4 separate regions of the Homo sapiens genome follow, and regions 2, 3 and 4 are each reported to be linked to region 1. The links are microRNA targets in miRTarBase. Many come from high-throughput screens and were not tested one by one. Region 1 holds a microRNA gene; each other region holds the end of a gene's coding sequence. Distances are between the middles of the regions.
The links. The annotated mature microRNA hsa-miR-548aq-5p reads GAAAGUAAUUGCUGUUUUUGCC and lies in region 1 at 2,782-2,803, shown strand. An mRNA with a match to its seed (bases 2 to 7 or 8) in the 3' UTR can be bound and repressed. Matches are read on the target gene's strand: a 7mer-m8 pairs with bases 2 to 8, a 7mer-A1 pairs with bases 2 to 7 and ends in A, and an 8mer does both.

Region 2: miRTarBase lists RDH11 as a target of hsa-miR-548aq-5p. Seed matches in the 3' UTR shown: 7mer-m8 at 1,481-1,487.
Region 3: miRTarBase lists TPRA1 as a target of hsa-miR-548aq-5p. Seed matches in the 3' UTR shown: 7mer-A1 at 2,409-2,415.
Region 4: the mRNA of PTBP2 is a reported target of hsa-miR-548aq-5p. The part of its 3' UTR that is shown has no 7-base or 8-base seed match.

Annotation. Positions count from the first base shown.
Region 1 is chr3:185,766,686-185,770,685 of GRCh38, reverse strand. MIR548AQ (microRNA 548aq) reads left to right here and starts at 2,782; the gene lies at 2,782-2,839. The region is part of intron 2 of IGF2BP2 (insulin like growth factor 2 mRNA binding protein 2); the gene reads left to right. RefSeq lists enhancers at 379-879, 880-1,380.
Region 2 is chr14:67,673,459-67,679,609 of GRCh38, reverse strand. It overlaps RDH11 (retinol dehydrogenase 11), which reads left to right. Exons shown (of 7, transcript NM_016026.4): 7 at 1,187-2,810. The coding sequence ends at 1,289. It overlaps VTI1B (vesicle transport through interaction with t-SNAREs 1B), which reads left to right and starts at 4,978. Exons shown (of 6, transcript NM_006370.3): 1 at 4,978-5,235. The coding sequence starts at 5,121. It also overlaps a transcript of GPHN not described here. RefSeq lists silencers at 4,654-5,093, 5,194-5,303.
Region 3 is chr3:127,568,314-127,574,464 of GRCh38, reverse strand. It overlaps TPRA1 (transmembrane protein adipocyte associated 1), which reads left to right. Exons shown (of 11, transcript NM_001136053.4): 11 at 677-3,233. The coding sequence ends at 944. Among named protein-coding and RNA genes, the nearest start is that of MIR6825, 3.9 kb to the left of the region's middle.
Region 4 is chr1:96,813,098-96,819,248 of GRCh38, forward strand. It overlaps PTBP2 (polypyrimidine tract binding protein 2), which reads left to right. Exons shown (of 14, transcript NM_021190.4): 13 at 1-9; 14 at 179-1,952. The coding sequence ends at 308. Among named protein-coding and RNA genes, the nearest start is that of PTBP2, 94 kb to the left of the region's middle.

The DNA.
Region 1 (4,000 bases):
AGGGGCTCCTCCTCTCATAATTTGTATGTGCTGGTAATTAAGGCACCTCCACCTTGGGTGTCACAGGTGCTATGGGAAACATAACAGACTCTGGGTGAGTCTTGAGTCTGTTACCAATTTTCCAGATTACACAGGCAAGCCATTTAACTTCTCAGTCTTTTTAAAATCTGGTGCCTTGGAATAAAGGCCTATGGGGTCATAACCAAAGGAGCAAATAAGATGCTTGTGAAAATACTTTCCAATGTATAAAATCCTTTTTAAATATAACCCACTACTCTTTCTCACTCTGACATGGTGAATCTCTGTTCGTTGGTTTTGCTTTTCCTATCACATCCCATTTTCCTTGAGAGAACTGGAGTTTCCCGTAAATCACCAGATATGCTCCCTCGGGTTGGCCGGTCCTGCTCGACCAGTCCTGAGTCCTAACTATGTGGTGTGCTATGACAGAGCAAGGGTAGAGACTTCATTTTTCTGATGTAAATTACACGCCCGCCACCACATCCCTTCTTATGAGACGTAGATTCTGTTGACATAGGAGCCTAAGAGAGAGACCATCCCCCAGTTCTGCTTCCTTGAGGACATAGAGAGAAGGCTCAGGATTCGTTTCCCTTCCAGGGGTTCCCAGATCTTATTGGGTTTGTGTGGGCCTCTGGTCCCCAGGGGCCGAACTTTGGGAAGAGGGATACAGTGGCTGCTGCTATAGGCAGTTGGCACTTCTTTAGAGATAAAATGTGAAAAGATGGTTTGTGGATTTTGCCTAATAGATAGTAAGCATGACAGAAACACAGACCTCTTGGTTCATGTGGTTTTGTGACTGAGATGAAATTGTTTCTTTTTTTTTTTTTTTTTTTTTTTGGAGACAGGGTCTCATTCTATCATCCAGGCGGGAGTGCAGTGGCAGTGACCACAGTTCACTGCAGCATTGACCTCCTGGGCTCAATCGATCCTTCCACCTCAGCCTCCTGAGTAGCTGGGACCACAGGTGTGCATCACCATTAATTAAAATTTTTTGTAGAAATAGGATCTTGGTATGTTGCCCAGGATGGTCTTGAACTCCTGGGCTCAAGCTATCCTTCTGCCTCAAACCTCCAAAAGTGTTGGGATTACAAGCGTGAGCCACCGTGCCAGGCCATTTCTAATCTTTGGAGACCATGATTTCTCTGTCTGTAAAATGCACTTGAGAGCAAATTGAAGAGTGGCCTTTGAGCTGAATACCTTTACTTGGTTATGGCATTCACTATTTAAGAGTTACAGGTTCTTCTGAGTGTTTGCTGTCTCTTTATAACTTCCGTTTTAAACAATAGATTCACCTTTTTTTTAAAAAAAATTTGGAGACAGGGTGTCATTCTGTCTCTTAGGCTGGAGTGCAGTGGCATGATCATGGATGTCTCATTGCAACCTCAAACTCGAGGGGCCAAGTCCTCCTTCCACCTCAACTCCTTGGCCTAATCCATCCTCCCATCCTCCTCAGCCTCCCCATGCTCAGCTAATTTTTAAAAATTTTTATAGAGGTGGGGGTTTTGCTGTGTTGCCCAGGCTGATCTCAAATGCCTGGCCTCAAGTGATTCTCCCACCTTGGTCTCTCAAAATGTTGGGATTACAGGCGTGGACCACCGCGCCCCGCCCAGGTTCAACCTTTTTTTTGTTTTGATTTGTTTTGAGACGGAGTCTCACTCTGTCGCCCAGGCTGGAGTGCAGTGGCGTAATCTCAGCTCACTGCAATCTCCACCTCCCAGGTTCAAGCAATTCTCCTGTCTCAGCCTCCTGAGTAGCTGGGACTACAGGCGCATGCCACCACATCTGGCTAATTTCTGTATTTTTAGAAGAGATGGAGTTTCACCATATTGGTCAGGCTAGTCTCCCTGACCTCAGGTGATCCACCCGCCTCAGCCTCCCAAAGTGCTGGGATGACAGGCGTAAAAGCCACCACGCCTGGCTTAGATTCAACCTTTTAAAGGTGCTTATTGATCTATCAGAAGCTTCAAAGTGAAAGCATGATACTCCACCACTAGAGGGCAGTGCTGTCCTAGTCACATGATCTGAATCTACAAATTGCTGAATTTGAAGCTTCCTTCAGTCCTCCACAGAATTAGACAGAAAATTTATATCATTTTTATATGTATTAAGTATATACATATTCAAAATATAATTTAAATATTTAAGTAGTATTAAAGGACCTTTTAAAAATACTTAGATTGACTTAAAAGGGTTAACATGCAGTTCTTTATCATTATCATATTCTTTACCAAGTTAAACTGAATCCCACAGAAAAAAATCTATCCTGAAGGTTTGTAGTTCATCATCAGCCCTCGGGTTAGCTCAGCATCGTGACACCTCTAACTACATACTCATGTCGCCCAGGTTCTTCACTGTTTCACTTACAGGGATGCCATGCATCTGGCTGAGGATGTTTTAATTAACAATAGAGATACTCTTGGGAAAGTTCTCAACTTTCCTTTTTCCTTTTTCTGTAGGAGGTAAAGAGCTAAATAAATGTTTATATAGTGTCATGATGCCACTAAGAAAATAACAGCCCCTTTGTCTCTTTTCCCTCAATCATAAGGAAGTTATGACCTGAATAGAAAGACAAAGCAGTACCCTTCTGTGTTTTTCTCAAGTGAGAACATTTTTTTCTTTTGCATAAAGTCACAAAAGTGTATATAAGGGCTGAGGATCTGGTAATTGTCCACATTTCAGATTTTTTTAAGGAAATATTCCTAGAAGTATAATTGGATTAAAGAGTAATATAAGGATTAAGACACTTGCTATTTAGGTTGGTGTGAAAGTAATTGCTGTTTTTGCCATTACTTTCAGTGGCAAAAACTGCAATTACTTTTGCATTAACCTAAAATAATCATTGCCAATGCTTTCCAAAATGGCTGCACTAAAATATATCCCCTGAACAGTACATGAAATCATTTTCAACCCTAATACATTCCATAATTTCACCCAACATATTCCAGAATTGTATTCCTCATTTCAGCAGCCTTATTTTAAAATATTTTATAATTATAAACTTTTTTTTCCAAGTAGAAGGTATGTTGATCAATATTTCCCCAAATATATTACTGTACTGGTAAGACATATTAAAAAATGGTTCAGTGGTCAAATACATTTTTCAAATGTTGTATACTTGTCCCTTTCTTGGAGATTTGTGAAGCACACATGCATTTTAAGGCTCTGAGAAGTCCTGTAGTAAAGAAATCTGTTTAACTTGATGTTTTATAATTTATTTACATAACTACAGAATCCTTTAACATCTTATGGAAATGGGATTGGATTTTAGAAGATAGTAATGATGGTGGGAAGTTGTTCTGGAAGGTTTTAGGAAACACTGTAGTATTATAAGGATTTCTTCTGAACTTGTGTTGGTCTCTGGTCATCGTTGTGGAGAACAGAATCCACAGAGTAGCTAGATTAAGCACAAAAGAATGCATTGAGGTATATAGATAGATCACAGAATTGTCGGACAGGCTGAAGAAACAGGCTGCAGGTGGAGCTTCTTGATAGTCTGCAGAACTGGTCTGCCAAGAGAGCTGTTGCCTATGCCACCATCGAGAAGCTTCTCCCACAACTGCCTCTGCCAGATTGGGAAGCCACTGGGTCCACAGTTGTGTGTCTCTATCCTAGCAGGAAGTGGGGCTGGGCAGTTTGTTTTCAGTCCTATTTTAGGAAGGAGGGACTTTACACTAAGGTGAACTATCAAATGTGGAGAGAATGTCTAAAAGACGGCAGCTACAATTAGCAGGCATCCAAGAAGACAGCTGTGTGTTGTGAACACCTTGGGATATAGGTCAGAAAACTGGGGTGTAGCCCTGGCCTTGCCTCTTAACTGCTGCATGACCTTGGGCAAGTCCACTTTCAAACTTGCGATCTCATCTCTAAACAGGATATAACTCACTGACTTGGAGTGAAGATAAAATGAAAGTAATAGGTGTGAATATACCAGGGAAAACTATAAAGTATTAAATGAAATCAGTAAAAAGTATTTTTCACAACC
Region 2 (6,151 bases), not on the chromosome of region 1:
CAACATGGCAAAACCCTGTCTCTACTAAAAATACAAAAATTAGCCAGTCATGGTGGCAGGCGCCTATAATCCCAGCTACTCTGGAGGCTGAGGCAGGAGAATTGCTCAAACCTGGGAGGCGGAGGTTGCAGTGAGCTGAGATCGCATCACTGCACTCCAGCCTGGGCGACAGAGTGAGACTCCGCCTCCAAAAAAAAAAAAAAAACTTGGAATTAATTACAGCAATGAAGAGAGGGTATATGAAACACTTTGCTATGATTTGAATGTGTCCCTCAAGGTTCATATGTTGGAAACTTAAGCCTCAATACAACAGTATAGAGAGGCAGGGCCTTTAAGAGGTAAATTAGGTCACAAGGGCAGCCCTCATGAATGGTTTAATGCCATTATCTCTGGAACGGGTTCATTATCTTGGGAGTGGTTCCTTATTAAAGGATGACTTGTGTCCCCTTCCCTCTCTTGCCCATGTCATGCCTTCCATCTTGTTATTACACAGCAAGAAGGCCTTCATCAGATGCCAGCCCCTTGATCTTGGACTTCTCAGCTTCCATAATCATAAGCCAGTTTCTGTATGCTCATTATAGTTACCCAGTTTGTCGTATTCTGTTACAGTACCACAAAATGGACCAAGACACCTCGTACCTTGGTTTTACCATTTCTTTTCTGTGTCGCCTTTTCCTTTTGTTGTTTTCGAAGCTGGCTTTACTTCTCATATGAGTTTACTAACAGTATAACTTCAAGGAGTCCAGAAATAAGCATTTCTTTTTTTTTTTTACTACTCCAGGCATCTCTGACCAATGTGAATAGCAGGATCTCAGCTATATGACATTGTCCAAGGCTCTGTAGAATGGGCCTTATGGACTTACTTGAAGAAGATGGATATACATGGGTGTCAGGCAGGCACTAATATTAAATTATATAAATAGGGGAATATAAAGACCAAATGTATGCATTATATATCAAACAAAGCATTCTGATGAGAGGTGGTCTAGCGAGGAGATCTAAAATGGTAATTACATTTTCTCTGGCTAAGGACTGGAGAATGAAGAGATAAGGACAAACACTGGCCCTGTGAAGTACATGGAGAACATGTGATCCCTAGTTGTTTTTATGTCATATTCCTTATCCCTGGCAGATGGCAGACTTCATTCTTAACACTGTGCTTCATACCTTTCTCTTTACCTTCCAGTGACTGTCATGTGGCATGGGTCTCTGCCCAAGCTCGTAATGAGACTATAGCAAGGCGGCTGTGGGACGTCAGTTGTGACCTGCTGGGCCTCCCAATAGACTAACAGGCAGTGCCAGTTGGACCCAAGAGAAGACTGCAGCAGACTACACAGTACTTCTTGTCAAAATGATTCTCCTTCAAGGTTTTCAAAACCTTTAGCACAAAGAGAGCAAAACCTTCCAGCCTTGCCTGCTTGGTGTCCAGTTAAAACTCAGTGTACTGCCAGATTCGTCTAAATGTCTGTCATGTCCAGATTTACTTTGCTTCTGTTACTGCCAGAGTTACTAGAGATATCATAATAGGATAAGAAGACCCTCATATGACCTGCACAGCTCATTTTCCTTCTGAAAGAAACTACTACCTAGGAGAATCTAAGCTATAGCAGGGATGATTTATGCAAATTTGAACTAGCTTCTTTGTTCACAATTCAGTTCCTCCCAACCAACCAGTCTTCACTTCAAGAGGGCCACACTGCAACCTCAGCTTAACATGAATAACAAAGACTGGCTCAGGAGCAGGGCTTGCCCAGGCATGGTGGATCACCGGAGGTCAGTAGTTCAAGACCAGCCTGGCCAACATGGTGAAACCCCACCTCTACTAAAAATTGTGTATATCTTTGTGTGTCTTCCTGTTTATGTGTGCCAAGGGAGTATTTTCACAAAGTTCAAAACAGCCACAATAATCAGAGATGGAGCAAACCAGTGCCATCCAGTCTTTATGCAAATGAAATGCTGCAAAGGGAAGCAGATTCTGTATATGTTGGTAACTACCCACCAAGAGCACATGGGTAGCAGGGAAGAAGTAAAAAAAGAGAAGGAGAATACTGGAAGATAATGCACAAAATGAAGGGACTAGTTAAGGATTAACTAGCCCTTTAAGGATTAACTAGTTAAGGATTAATAGCAAAAGATATTAAATATGCTAACATAGCTATGGAGGAATTGAGGGCAAGCACCCAGGACTGATGAGGTCTTAACAAAAACCAGTGTGGCAAAAAAAAAAAAAAAAAAAAAAAAAAAAATCCTAAAAACAAACAAACAAAAAAAACAATTCTTCATTCAGAAAAATTATCTTAGGGACTGATATTGGTAATTATGGTCAATTTAATAATATTTTGGGGCATTTCCTTACATTGTCTTGACAAGATTAAAATGTCTGTGCCAAAATTTTGTATTTTATTTGGAGACTTCTTATCAAAAGTAATGCTGCCAAAGGAAGTCTAAGGAATTAGTAGTGTTCCCATCACTTGTTTGGAGTGTGCTATTCTAAAAGATTTTGATTTCCTGGAATGACAATTATATTTTAACTTTGGTGGGGGAAAGAGTTATAGGACCACAGTCTTCACTTCTGATACTTGTAAATTAATCTTTTATTGCACTTGTTTTGACCATTAAGCTATATGTTTAGAAATGGTCATTTTACGGAAAAATTAGAAAAATTCTGATAATAGTGCAGAATAAATGAATTAATGTTTTACTTAATTTATATTGAACTGTCAATGACAAATAAAAATTCTTTTTGATTATTTTTTGTTTTCATTTACCAGAATAAAAACTAAGAATTAAAAGTTTGATTACAGTCAAAAGAAGAAAACACTGTTCATTATTATGGTTGTGCAATGATTTCTCATTCTAAAGAATAATTTGTTCCAGAGTCTAGCTACAGTGTAATCTCAATCCACATGCTATTAATTTAGGTTGTGTGATAATCTAATTGTTCATTCACCATTTCCTACTTAACCTTTTTTGACACTCTTCACAGACACTTTTTCCACATTTCTTGATCATCCCGGGCCATTTTTTTTTCCTTTCTTTTTAATTAGAGACAGCGTCTTGCTTTGTTGCCCAGGCTGGCCTCAAACTCTGGGCTCAAGCGATCCTCCCACCTTGGCCTCCCAAAGTGCTGGGGTACAGGTGTGAGCCGCAGCACCCGGCCCCAGGCTATTGATCCTTTTTTTGCACCTGCCCCTTATTTCTGTACTGTGACAAGTCCCAGCATTGTGCTGTGGGACTTACACAGTATACTGACTATCCTCAGACTTGGTCATGTCTATGCTCAGTGCATATTAAGAGCTTAACCAAAGTGTGTTGAATCAACAGCCAATGAACTTGATCTAATAAAAATGAGGGCCCAGGAGATACAAATTAGCAAAGCATTTTCTCCTGAGCAGTCATACATCTTTTAATATTTGTAGGCAGTTTAAAATTGAACTCCCAAGCAAACATTTGAGAACAGACACCTTGAGCAAACCGTGAAATCGGTGAAAATAATAATTTATTTTAATTTTTTGAGATAGGGTCTTCTCTGTCACCCAGGCTGGAGTGTGGTGGCACGATCTCAGCTCACTGCAACCACTGCCTCCCGGGTTCAGGCGATTCTCCTGCCTCAGCCTCCCGAGTAGCTGGGGTTACAGGCGCCCACCACCACGCTTGGCTAATTTTTGTGTTTTTAGCAGAGACGGGGGTTTCACCATGTTGGCCAGGCTGGTCTTGAACTCTTGACCTGAAGTGATCCGCCCGCCTCGGCCTCCCAAAGTGCTGGGATGACGCGTGAGCCACCATGCCCGACGTGAAGACAGGAATTTATACCCATGGAGTGCAAGAAGGGACCTTGTAATTTTTAACACGTGACACTTAGTGGCAGATGAGACCTAATGAAGCCAGGCCCACCTTCCACACCAGATTATAAATTCCCCTGGAGCAGAGATTAAATGTTTTATTCACCAACATGCCCAGATCCCTCGCAATGCCTACGCTTGACAAACACCTGTTGTCAACAAGTGCACGAGGCAGCCTAGGAGGAGAATTAGTCTCCACGAGGAGAATTACTCGGGCCTAGCAGCTAGAGTATTTCGAGGTCATCCTAACTGGGTTCCACTTTTGAATTTTTGGTTTTTGGGTTTTTTGTTTTTTTGGAGACAAGATCTCGCTCCACTTGGGAGCAAGGTCTCCCAAAGCTGGAGTGCAGTGGTGGGACCTCAGCCTCCGGGGGTAGCTGGGGCCAAAAGTGCGCGCCACCATGCCCGGTTCTTATTTTGGGTTTCTGGTAGAGCTCTCGCTATTGTGCCCAGGCTGGTCTCGAACTACTGGGTTCAAGCAATCCTCCCACCTCGGCCTCCCAAAGTACTGGGATTACAGGCGCGAGCCACTCGCCCGGCCGGGTTCCACTTCTGAAAGCTTGGGGAGCCGCTGGGCCTTCCAAGAAAAGTGCTCCACCTCCCGACGGCAGGCAGAGCCCCTGGCCCGGCTATCTTTCCAGGGCCGAAAGCTAACAGTCAAGACGCGAAACGAGGAATTCGGGTCAGGGTGGCAAAGCAAAGCGCGATGACAGTGAGGACGACGTCTAGACGCAAACATACATCAAATCGGGCCGAAGCCCGCTGTCGCCGCGCGGGCTGAACCTGGCACCCGGAGCAACGCGCGACCCCGGGACGAGACGCTCTCGTCCGAGCCAAACTACATCCCCCGGCGTGCACTGCAGCGCCCGCCCCTCGCCGGCCGGCGGGGCCCGGGAGGAAGGCGGCCGCGCTGCCAGTCCCGCAGGTCCCCTAGGCCCCTTTCGCTGCGGCCTTTCCCCAACCCGGACCCGGCACTTCTCGGGTTCCGCGACTGCCGATCGCCCCGGCGCGGCACCGCTCCCTCAGGAGTCGCCTAGGCCGCGCAGTCTCCCGACTTCTCGTCAGGCTTTCGCGCCGGCGCTCCAGCAATCACTGGCTGGAGAAGGTGGGCGTTCCGGCTCGAGAGGACCCTGCCGCGGCTCCGGAAGAGCCTCGTCCTGGGCGGCGGTGGTGCGGCGGTCGCCGTTATGGCCACTGGGCTGGGCGGCTGACCGCCGGGCTAGGAAAGGGCCCAGGGCCCCGAATCTCGGTGGCCGCTGCTCCAGCGCGGCCTGCGCCATGGCCTCCTCCGCCGCCTCCTCGGAGCATTTCGAGAAGCTGCACGAGATCTTCCGCGGCCTCCATGAAGACCTACAAGGGGTGCCCGAGCGGCTGCTGGGGACGGCGGGGACCGGTGAGGCGGGGGTGGGCCACGCCGTGGGGAGCGCAGCCCTGCGCGCTTTGGAAGGAAGATTCTCCCACCTTCCTCCCAGACCCGGGCCCGCGTCTCCTCCCTCCGCGTCCTCAGACACGCCCCCTAGGGCTGGCTTGTCCCAGCCCCAGGTCTCCCTGCTGCCACTGAGAGTAAATTGGACCTCGGGATTCAGTTCCCTGGGATCCTTCTATGGCCTTCCACATTTTCTCATCTTTTTTCACTGTGGCAAATAGAGCAGAGGGGCTTTTGCATCTGCGGTCCTGTAATGTAGAGTGGGTTTCTTTCATAGCTGTTTTTGTTTGTTTTATGCATTTAAAAGCACTAGTCTCAAGACAGGTCTAGTTTTCACCAGACTGACAGAGGATCCGTAGCACAGAAAAAGGGTTAAAAACCCAAAGGAGTCATAATTTGGGGGTGTTGGTAAATACCAGTTATTGGAGGGTAGAGAGCTGGCCTTTAAAACCTGATTGTGGCATTTAGATGTGGTCTTGTTTTGAACGTTTTTACAGCTGAGACTGTTTACTACCCCTTAATTTCATGATTCAGGTTGCTACAAGTTCTGTCTGGAGGAGCTAGAGTTTTCCGGCCCTAAATCCATAGGAAAAGCTGCTATAGTTCTTGGCCTCCGGATATATAGAATTTGATGGCAAGGACAAAACTTTGTTTTATTGCTTTTATTTAAGAGTCAGAGCTTGGGTGTTTGCTCAACGAATTACTCAAGGTCATAGGAATTGAATGACTGGTGAGAATGAAATTCATGTATTTAATATATATTTATTGTGAGGCTGCTGTGTGCTAGGTGCTGGTGAATTGTGAGGCACCGTTCTAGGTGCTGGTGAATATTGCAAATTACAGTGAAAAAGATACGAACATCCCCATTCTAGTGGGTAGGTGA
Region 3 (6,151 bases), 58 Mb from region 1:
AGCGTCTGTGAGATGGGATGCTGAAGACATGGGATTGGGGGTCCCACTCCAGACCTTAATGTGGTCGGAATGTGGGTGTTTTGTCCCCCCTTTCTCACCTGCCAGGTCTTGTGGGGAGGGGATCAGCCTCCCACCTGGGTGAAGCTGGGAGAGGGCCAGACTGGTCCATGGCCCCAGCTTGGATCTTTGCACACAATTTCTCCCCTGAGCCTCAGGCTCCTTTTTGTAAATTGGGTGTAGTGTGTCCCCCTTGGAGAGTTGCCCTGAGGGCCGAGGGACGAGGTCAGAGTGGAGTGGGTGGTAACATGAGCAGCAGGGGTCACAGGAGTGGGGGCGGAGGCCACAGCCAATGTCTCCTGAGTGCTTGGGCAGGCACTGTTGAAGCCTCATGATTTATGTCCATTCTTCCTCCACACGGTGTCCACACACCCATTTCACCATGAGGAAGCAGGCACAGATGCCCCCCGCCTGAGCTCACACAGCCAGGGGGAGGAGGGCTGGGTTCCAAAACAAGTCTAGATGGGCTCTGGGGTCCAGCTCACAGGCCCACTCAGAGTGGGTGTCAGGCGACTGTTGGTCAATTCCTTCCTTATCTGGTGGCCCCATCAGCCTGGAGAGGAAGGCTCTTCCTGAATCACTCAGTGAGGCTTCCATGCCCCTCTTTTCCTTTTATCAGCTCGGAGCCCAAGATCCTCTTCTCCTACAAATGCCAAGTGGACGAGACAGAGGAGCCAGATGTACACCTACCCCAGCCCTACGCTGTGGCCCGGCGGGAGGGCCTGGAGGCTGCAGGGGCTGCTGGGGCCTCAGCTGCCAGCTACTCGAGCACGCAGTTCGACTCTGCCGGCGGGGTGGCCTACCTGGATGACATCGCTTCCATGCCCTGCCACACTGGCAGCATCAACAGCACAGACAGCGAGCGCTGGAAGGCCATCAATGCCTGAGGGCAGCTGCCAGGGCCTGTGGAGGACAGGCCAGAGAGGAGGCCAGCAGGCCCAGAGTCCCCAGGGGAGGAGGACCAGGTCAAGGGACGTTCTGTGGGCAGTAGCCCTGTGTGGCCCTGTTCCCACCATGAGTCTGGAGGCCCCACCTCCCTGGGGCTCCCAATCCCCTTTGCCATCTCTGCTCTCACTGGGGACCCTCCTCCCCTTCCCACCTGCTCTCATACTGCTCAGTGACATGGCCCAGGCTTTCCTTCCAGGGCCATGCTTGGCAAGGTTGGCTGAGGGCACCCTCCTTCTCTGCACCCTTGGCACGAGGGCAGGGCTGGCTCTCCCAATGCCTCCATCCCATCCCCATGGTGCTTTGGCCTCCTCAAAGCATCCACCATGGTGGATGGACTGAAGTGTGTATATTTTCTTGATCTATTTTTTAATAAAAAGGAAAAGGAGCAGAAGGTGCTAATGTGGAGGTTTTGCAGGAATACTGGGGCTGGTTCCTTTCAGGAGCCTGAGGGCTGGGTGAGGGGCTGGGAGGCTCAGGGGGCCTCTGCTCAACCAAGGAGCAGTCCCCAGTGCCCAAGCCCTGGGCTGGCTGCTGGGGAGGTGAAGAGAAACAGGATCCCAGCTGCCGCTGCCCCTGCCCCTGGGCCCATCTGAGTAGGGGGGACAGACATGGAGAGAGAGGAGAACTATGTTTTGTGAGCCAGCCCCTCTCCCTTTGTCAGACACACACTGTTGTCTTGGGCAGCCGGTTCTCTCTGCTCAGCTCCATTAAAACGCAGAATGGACTTACTATTGCCATCTGTAAAATGCGGAGAAGACCCATCCTGCAGGGCCTTTTGTAAGGATTGGAAAACACTAAGCACGAGTGGCTGGCGTACAGTAATGAACGATAAGGATAGCTCTTATTTTTAGCCTCAAGAATAGTGCTTGGCACATAGTAGGCCCCCAGCAGACAGGACTCGGGGACTGATGTTTGTCATAAGGATGGGTGTGGTTGGCTGAAAATGGGAGTAAATCAGAGCAAAGCACTGGGATCATAAGGCATGAGTAGGGGAGAGGGGCCCACTTGTCCCTGCCACTGCCCTTGTACCTGAGTTCGGCTTTGAGCTTTTTGGCAGCCAGAGTGAAAGGGAGTTGCTGCCAGTTATGTAATCCCCAGAGTTGGAGAGGAGGAGCCCATCCAGGACACAGCCAACTGCATGCTTCAGAGCCTGGGGAGGTCTCAGCCCTGGCTGTGGGGACCCTGAGGATCAGGCTGTTGCCCGCCTCCGCGATCAGCCTTTTTTTTTTAGGGGGGAATGGGGTGCCGAGGGCACAAGCTCCAACACAGCTCATGTCTGTGGGGCCAATGTGTCAGGCTCCCTGGGAGGGCCTGGAGGGTTGATAGCGGACAGGGCCAACAGTACGGCCAGTGAGCTGGACTCCTGGGCTGCAGGGGGTACTGCAGGGTGCCCCTGAATGGCATACTTTATCGGGGCCTCTCAGCTCATGTAAAAGCCTGGTAATCAGGGAAGGCAAGCTCACGGCATTCTGAGTGAGCGGGGTAAGGGTTGGGGCCAGCAGGGATTTGACCATCAGATCCACATGCAGTCCAAGATGGCACAGTGTCAGCCGAAGTTTGCTGGCTGCAGTGAATGAGCAGAGAGGCATCAACAGAAGAAAAGAGACCATTTTTATAATTTTTAAGTTTGTTTTTTAAAAATAGGTCATATATGTACATGGCAAGAAAAAAAAAGGTTCATGCAGTACAGGAGGGTATTTGGTGAACGATAAATCTCCCTGTGTGGCACTGAATTCCTCTGTCCCCCTCCTGAAGCACCCAGGGTCTCCATAACCTTCCAGAGCCATCCTGTGTTCACACCAACGGATGTGTATATCATCCCTCTTTCTGTAATGCTAATGTCCTGTAGCTCACTCCAATGGATCTTGGAGATCATTCCATGTCAAGTGGAGGACTGCTTCACCCCTGCAGCTACATATATATGGATATATGGCAATTTATAAACCACTTCCCTTTTGTTTCTGAAAAATTTTGCAACAACAAACAAGGCAACATCAACAATCCTTATAAATTTGCTTTTGGTAACTCATGCAAGTAGAATTGCTGGAGCACACAGTCTTAATTAGTTTTAATTACTCTTATTAGTCTTCTGCAGAGATCAATAGTTGTCCTCCAATATATGTTGTTTTTCTCCATTGGAAGAGAATCCCTGATTTTTCGCTAGATACACAGCTGTCTAGAATAAAGACTGCATTTTCTAGCCTTCCTTGCAGGTGGGTTCTGGCCAATGGATGTAAGTATGCATGCAACTTCCTTAGAGATAAGAGGTGGCCCTTCTTTCCTGCTGACTGGAATGTGCTTATAATGGCTGGAGTGATAGCAGCCATCTTGAACCATAGGGTAATCTGGGGAATGGAAGTTTCTCATTGCAGTGCGACAGGATAGAGAGAGCCGGTGTCATGGACACTGTAGTGCATCTGTAACGACCTCGGACGTCCTACCTTCAGATGACTTTTGGAACGTATGAGAGAAATGAGTGGCTATCTTGTTCAAACCACTTTTGATGTTTCTCTTACAGTTGAACCTAATCTGAACCAAAACACCCATTCCAAGAGGCTATGCCAGCTTTCATTCCCACCGGCACATCCTCACTGACGTGGTATGCCAGTCACATTTTCAGTCTTTCTGAAGAGCCCTGCTCAGACCACGTCTGTGTGGTGTCTGGGTGCGAACAGGCATTAGGCAGAGGAGCGGCTGGATGCGAGGTTTCTGGAGTCTTAACGTGGTGACAGAGTTCACTGTATGTGGCCAAAGTCTAATCTCACCTTCCCACTGCTGCTGCACATGGACTGTGGACCTTGGGCAGGTCACAGCTTCTCCTTGATCCTCAGTTTCTTCACTAGTGGTACAGGGTAGCAGGTGACTGGTTGCCACTGGTATCCATTTTTCCTCCCTCAGTAACTGCACCCTCATGTTTGTGGGTCAGTGAAGCACCCACCTTAGAGGTGTCACCATTGAGAATTTAGGGAAGAAGACCTTGGACACAGGGTCCTCAGTTGCTGCCAAGCTCAGTGCCAGCCACATGGCCCTGAAGCAGCAGAGCTCTGAGACCTGCAGGTCCACCCACCCAGAGCACTGGAGCATGGTGATATAACGGGTGAACGCATGGCCAGTGATGTATGGGTTTGCCAGGGCTGCCATAACAAAGTACTATAGATGGGGGCCTTCAACAACAGGGGTTTATTTTCTTACAGTTCTGGAGGCTGGAATTCCAAGATCAAGGTGTCCACTGTTGGTTTCCTCTGAGGCCCCTCTCCTGGGTTTGCAGTCAGCCGTCCCCTTTCTGCCTTCTTGAGTGGTCTTCCTTCTGTGTGTGGGGTCCCTGCTGTCTCTCTGGGTCCGAATTTCCTCTCTTTATATGGACACCAGTCAGATTAGATTAGGACTCCCAATGAATGGCCTCTTTTCACCTTAGTCACCTCTGTAAAGGCCAAATCTCCAAATGCAGTCCCCTGCAGAGGTGCCTGGGGCTGGGGCTTCAGTGCATGAGTGTTGGGGGACTGACTTCAGCCATAACAAATGGCATTAGAGCCTCTCTCCCTCTGACCTCCTGACACTGTGCAAGAGCCTGAGACCTTACCAGATCCACGGAATAGGCAGAAAAGCCCTAAGCATAACTGAGGTTAAGTCTTCCTCCTGCTCAGCAGAATGGGGCCATGGTGGAAACTCAGCAACATTCTAGAAAATTCCTGGTGTGCTGTGGTGGGATTCCCCCCGCTATGTGGGACTGGGTCTTCTCCAGGACAGCCCCAGGTTCTGCCGTTTCCCTCGGGACAGCTGGAGGGGCATCGCCCTGCCCTGCCCCATTAGAGGAGGGATGAGGCCGTGTGACTAACGCTGGCTACTGAGATGTGAGTAGAGGTGGCATGCATCAGTCACTTCCAGGTGGGAGAATTTAATGGCCAGTACATTGCTCCAGCCAGCCACGGTGATGGCAGAAGCATGTGGTAAAGATAGAGCCTCTGCCAGCCTGGGTCCCTGAGGGGGCTCAGTGGGAAGAATCCCCCTGCTGAGCATGCACTGAACATGTGACCAGAAAAAGAAGTGAACCCTACCCTTTAAGCCTCCAAGACTGGAGGCTGTTTGTTACTGCAGCACATCCTGGCATGTCTCAACCTCTCCAAGGGTTAGCTGAGGTGGACACCTGCTACAGTAGCTGTGATTAATTTGATTTCCAAGTAGAGAGAGCAAGGCCTGGGCTAGGGACAAGTAACAGCTCCTGGGCTCAAAGGGTCACCCCCTCAGCCCCTGTGTCACATGGGCTCATTTTCAGACTCCATGGATCATTCTGTTAGTTTCTCCTCCCCTTCATAGCTTCCTTAGGGATGCCTGTGCCAGGGTCATAACCTGAATGCCCTAGTCTTTCCACCTCCCTTCAGCTTCCAGTGGCCTCATCTCTGTGCTTTCGGGTGACTGTGGAGGGGTGAAGGCATCTGGGGAGGAGCTAGTGTGCTGTGATGGCACAGGCCATGTACTAAGTGTGTGCTGGGCACCCAGCGCCGAGCTGCCTTCTGGAGTGCCAGCCTAGGAAGCACTGTCCCCTTCCCTGACCAACTGTTCCTGCTGTGCCACTTGCAGATCAAGGGGCCGGGCCTGGGAGAGAGGGCTGTGCCCGAGCCCAGGAGGAGTGAGCCTGCTCCTCTCCCAGTGACGATGGGGTAGGTACCTCTTGGAGCAGCTGGTCGGCCTCATGGGCTGTCCCAGAGATGCTCAGGTGGCCTGCACCTGGTGCCTGGATGTCAGACACCATGGCACCGAACCCGTTGGCAGATGGGCTCCCTGGAGGCCTGAGCCCACCCTCTGCCCCAGGCAGGTGATCAAGATGCGGCAAAGCCAGCCTGGAGAAGCAGTTGCTAAGCCATGAGTATGCCTCTCCTCGATCTCAGAAATGCCTTTTGAGAGCTGCAAGGGGTTAGAGGCACCTGCTCAGCACTGAGCCTGGTGAATAGACCTAGTGTGAGTGGCCTAGAGTGAGTGGCCACTTGCTTCTCCCCATGGCTTTGTAGCAGAGCTGGGCTGGAGACTGGACCCACACTCCCCAGGGCTGCAACAACTGAGTGAGGCCAAAAGGATATTGGTCCCAAGCTTCCCGTGTCCCTGGGGATGCGTGCGCAAGTTCTGCCTTGGGACTTGGGCTCAGTCCCGG
Region 4 (6,151 bases), not on the chromosome of region 1:
GTTTTTTCAGTAAGCAAGCTTCCTTATCTTTAAATTAGTGACCTGATAAAATTTTTAAGTAGTTTTTGTTCTTTTCGTTTATAGAAATTTTTGATTCCGGAATGGCCAAAATTCAAGTATTTAATAAGCCCTTTCTAATTTGTATGAAGTGTCTAATTTTATAATTTTGTTTCAGAAGAGATCACAAAATGGCTCTTCTTCAGATGGCAACAGTGGAAGAAGCTATTCAGGCCTTGATTGATCTTCATAATTATAACCTTGGAGAAAACCATCATCTGAGAGTGTCTTTCTCCAAGTCAACAATTTAAAAATGGGAAGATGAAGATTGGGGGTGAATCACATTGTTCAATGTCATCACCTATTTGACTGTTCAGAAAAGTGGGGACCAGAGTTTGATTTTTTTTGTTTTTGTTTTTTTGGGGTTTCTTTTTTTTTTCCATGCTGTTATCATTCCTTGGTTATAAAATGAAATGGCATATGTAAAGGCAGAGTTGTTAACTGCTATATTTCATCTGTTCTATAGGGAAGCCATTTTGTCTGTTTAAAATTTCAGTTTAATTTTGCTTTTTTTTTTTTTTTTTTTTTCCTTTCAACTTAGTTGACATACGTGCCTTAAAAAGGAAAACTAGTGTTGCTATTGTGCATTTACTAGAAAAAAGGAATTGGTTGTTTAGGGCACACTGTTATATGGGAATTAAAATATGTTTAGGCAGGGGTGTGTAAAAAGGTTAAGTTTTTGTTTCTCCTGCTTGGAACTTATTTTGAATTACTGGCTTGTCACCTTTTTTTCTATTTAATCAAATAAGATACATGATATTGAAAGAATAAAGCAGCATTTTTAGTTTTTACTACCTTAGGCTTTATTGCTTTGAAAACAACATTGGCCTTTTGTATCTCACAATTCTGGTCTAGATTCAGTTATGAATGTAGGCATTAGTTAAAATTAACAAGATGCAGAGTATTAATTTCTTAAGACAACAAAGTGATTTCTGTAAGTTTGAGCCCTATGTGGAAAGCATTGTGGAATCTTAACCTTTTCGTACACACTCTTGTGGGACGTATCATATAAATGTCAGCACTAAGTAATGTCTTGTTTGTGGCTGAATATTTTTCGTAGATGTTTTTGAAGTTGACATGACTTACGTGCATTTAAATATATATTGCCATCCTTAGTTTGTAATTAAGATTTGGAATATGGTTGTGGATTTCTGAGCATGTGCAGACTGGTCTAGCTAGTTCAGGAACTGGTGCATGTATTTTTCAAAGATAAAGAAAGTGTACTGCGAAAATATGCAGGAAGATTAATTTTGTGGCAGTTTTCTAAAACTGACAACCAGGTGGGACCAAAGTTTATGTGCCTTTAGTCTTAATTTACCTTGCATTGTAATATTCAGTTTTAATAAATCTTCAAAATATTTTGTATTTAGGAATAGATCTGACTTTAATAAAAACATGGCTCAGAATCTACAGGTCAAATTAATTTGAACAGTTCTTGTCAATCCGAATTGTTGATTCTGTTTAAATGACCAATACTTTTTGAAATTGATGTACTTAGTTTCAAGATTCATAGATTCTGTTATCTATGTAGACAGAATGGTCATGTATATTTTCTATTAGTTGAGTTTTTACATCTTTAGAAATGTAAAATTCAGTATAGTTTGAAAGCGGCACAATTAAAAATTAATTTTCTAACAAAGTTGGGAGGTTTGATGGTTGTTTAATTTCATTTTGTGTGTACTCTGCTTACCCCTGTAGCATGCTCAATAAACACTTCTGTAGCTCTATATTCACCTTTTCTGTCTTTCTCTGCTGCCTTTTCTCTCTCCTCTTCTTTGTTTTCACTCCACTGTGCTTCTGAATTCATGTTTATTCTCTGCCAGGGTGGGAAAGGAGTAATAATATTACAATTCTATGGCTTTATACCATAAATAAATCTAGATGCTGTGAAAATATACCAGCTGGTTTTTTTTAATTTAAAAGATGGTAACTGCTTTTCAGGAGGACACATATTAAACATTTCCCACCCTGTTATAATCTACTGCTTTAAAGACATAACTTTTATTGTAGCTTGTTAATTCTATCTCTTTTGTTCTTGTTGTTTTTTTTTTTTTTCCAGTAGATTTATGCACTAATAGATCTTTTGGATTTGCCATGCTCTCTTGCTGCAGTTTCATCTTTCATCTTTTGTGTCTGCTAAAGATTTCTTACTAATCTTAGACTACCTTGTGAGTTAACAAAAAGAACTTGATATTACTGGGAAGAAAGAGCAGCATATCTGCATATCAGCATATCTGCTTTTGCCTTGGGTGGGAAGAATGATATACATTCAAGTATTTAAAAACTTAGAGTAATTTGCATTTAACAACTGAGGATGTTACTACTGTAACTTGTTAAGCAGTTACAATTAGGGTGCTATTTATATTCAAAATATTTCGGTCAGTTTTTCTAAACAGATATATTGGTATCAAATAACTTTGGAGTTACACATGTTTCTTAGGTTTGTTCTGTTATAAAATATCCCACACTTATGCAAAACTTACACATAGGATAATAAAAAGTAAATGAAGGAACATAAAATATGTTTTACTATACTTAATGTAGTAATTCAGTTACCTCCAAGAAAGAAGAATATAATAAGTAAAATAATTTTGTTTACACTAGTGTCACTGTTGTCATCTGAAGAAGAACCATTAGAGTCAACAGTCTGGGATGATTTGGAAGCTAGGTGATCTGTGTTTTTTTCTTAAAATAACATCGTAGCACAGAGGAACTCTACCAGCATCAGATAAGTCTAAAGTCTAAAAAACCAATACCAGGGTTAGTGAATAGTAATTGAACAAAGCTTCTCAAGGTGAAGTTTTTCTCAGTAATTAGTGGTGGCTATAATATTTGAAAGTAGGTTCTGTCACCTTTTCAGGTGCTCATTGTGGGTGGGATTGCCTTGGGAAGGAGAAACTAAGTCCTGAGCTGTGTGTGTGGACTTAGTTTGTGCCAGTTGCTAAGCTGGTGGGAGTTCCCAGTCTCCCTAGTGGGAGATAACCAGAAACCAGCTCTTCCTGCCTAAGGACTACAGCAGATTCTATACTGTCTTACAGTATGCCCTAATACGGCCTTCCTTCCAAAGCACCAAGTCACTAAAGGGGGATTTTGACATTCTAGAATATTTTTAATTCAGTACATCAAATTAACCCAGGCCTTGGCATATAGTGAATTGCTTATTAAAAGTTAGGTAAAAATAAAAACAGCTTTGTCGTATATTAGTACTCTATGACTCTTAGAGTGAACAAGCTAACAAGTATTCTTAGGACTTAGCTGCTTTGTTAATAGAGGTCTTAACTTGAATATTTAGAAATAATCAGAAAAATTATTTTTTGGTATTGAAGATGTATTTTGGAAATGGGTTTTAAAGTACCTACTTAAGGAAGAGATATCTACAGTTTATATTTAACGTTAGCATTTGAAAGCAATGAAGAAAATTTTTCCTTAACCAGGAAGTGTAATGAATCATTATATTAGAGATTAAATTAACACTTTGGAAGCATTTTAGCTCCTAGAGTTAAGGTTAGTATAGTGAAATTATGGTGATTAGCTTAATTCATTCATGTACATCTATTTGTATCACCATATAATTACTAGGGAAAGGACAAATCACTTTTCAAAGCCTCAATGTTATTTGTAAAATGGAGGCAATAAGTTCTGCTCTGCTCCCCTCACAGGATTATTACAGAGGCTCAAATAGGATAAGTGAAGGAATGCTATGCAATTAGTTAACTAATGCCAGTTCCCAGACTGCCAGATTTGCCCACAGTAAACTTCATTATCCACAATACATGTTATCCTAATATGTCTTTTTGCTACAAAGAAATACTAATGTTTTAAAATTATTTACTAGTTTCATAAAGCAGAAAGATGTAAAATGCAGTTATAGAGAGCATCCCAAGCCAGATGAAAAGAAACCATGGATTTAGCTTTATATTTTCTGTTTGAACTTGATAGCCCAATCATAAAATGCACATATTTAATTATAGACTGCACTTAAGATTTCATATGTATAAAAAAGTTGCTGTGAAACAGGTAATTTTAACACTCAGGAATTTCAAGGCTAAGGAAGAAAGACATACTCTCATGAGCAGCTCTGAACTTCAAACAGGATTTTCTGGCTGCCTTAATATATTAAAATGGAGCCTAAATCTGAAAACGTTTTTTTCATTCAGAAGAAAGTACAGAATTCAGTGAAATTGAGTATACTAGGAAATCTGATGGCAAGAATTCAGCAGAAAGTCTTAATTTTAAACCGTAATATTCATTGATTATGCAAAACCTTAGTTTTATAGTTATTCTTTGTTATTTTGAATAGCTTCCCTTTAAATTTTCTAGTTTCAGATTTTGCAAATAAAAGTGTACATGTTAAAGTTATAGAGTATTAGATTATTCACATTAAGAACTGTTCAAATACGCGGAAAAATAAAACCGTAATGAACACCTATGCACTTCACTCAACTATATCACTACCTAACATATTCCATATTTTAAACGTAATTATATATTAGTTGAAAGAAAACGTTACAGAATGAACTGAAATCCCATATGAACCTCTTTCTGATCTTAGTTCAAACCTTATTCTTTCCCAAGAGGTAATTGTTACCTTCAGTTTAGTATTTTATTATTCAGTGGTTGCTTTTCAAGAGGAATTTGTCCTATATTCTGTAGGCTAAATTTCTTGTTTTGCCTAGTTATAAAAATGGCAAATAATATGATATTGGGTGTTTAAATAGTACAATATTGTTCAAAACACACTTTATAATTTTTAACAGACTGTTTGGACATTGATAATTCCCCTATCAAATCTCATGACATTTAACCAATTTTTAACAAGGATTTTAAATTGTGTTTAAGAAATAAGTCATTTGGGCCTCAGGTTTCTCTTAAGGATGTAAACAAGGAGCTATATCATTGGTATTTTAGACGCTGAATTATGTGTAAGGTCCTTAAATACAAACATACCCTTTGTAGCTTCACAGAGCCACCCGTTTTGCACTTCTCTCGCTTTTCTTCCTCCCTCTTTGGCTCCCATTTCAATGGACAGAAAGACTATGTGGCATCTCTATTTTCATTCACTTGGTTTATTGTCTTGGTATGTTGTATAGGTTTTTGAATCAGAAAATTTTAACATTTTTAGATATTTCAAACATACAAAAAATAGAAGAATATTTAACAAACCCTTGTCAGCTTCAGTTAGCAACTTAGATCTTCCTCGTTTCCTCCACCCAATTCTCATCTCCTTTATTAATGCAGATCCCAGATATATTTTATCAAGAAATTTTGTAGCATATATTTGTGTTGTTTTATTCGTGGTCATAGTTGCTTTCTCTAATATCTAGACTAGCCTAGCTGGTCAATACTACTTTTCTTCAAATCCTAGAACCTCCCTATTAAAAATATAGTCACCAGACCAGTGGCAAATTAGTATCACCTAGGAGTTTATTAGAAACTCAGTCTATGAGCCTACTGAATCTACATTTTGACAAGATTGGCAGGTGATGCATTTGGACATAAGTTGGAGAAGCACTCAATGCATTTTTTCAGTTCTATAAAAATCAGCTTCAAAGTTTTTTCCTGAGTGTGGAAATTATTTCATTAGTAATTTTAAGTTATGCAGATATAGTTAATACCAAGAAATAATTGAACTGAAAAGGAACCCGGATATCTAGTTTTAACCAGCTGTTTTAAAGATAAACAGTTCTAGAGATCAAATGAATAGTTTAGCAACATATTTATTGTAACTTACCTGTAGTTAGAATCCAAGTCCCTGGCTTTCCAATCCAGTCTTCAATGTATAATACTGATCAAAAGAAATACAGGCCTGCTATTATTCATAAATTTAAACTATTATGTACAAGTTGATAGCTTATAATAGAAATCAGTATGATTAGTGTTAAAAGTCAAATTTAGTCTGACAGGGAAGGAATGTCCATGTGAACTGATTTTTTTTAATAGAATGCAAATTAATACTCAATTCCTGATTTGTTTATTACATTTTGTGGTTTAATGAAATGATACTCAGGTCATTTTCATAAATAGCTTTTCTATTAATGCTTCCTCAGTCACATTCTCTATTCCTATTGCATAGCACAGTCTAACAGTTGAAATG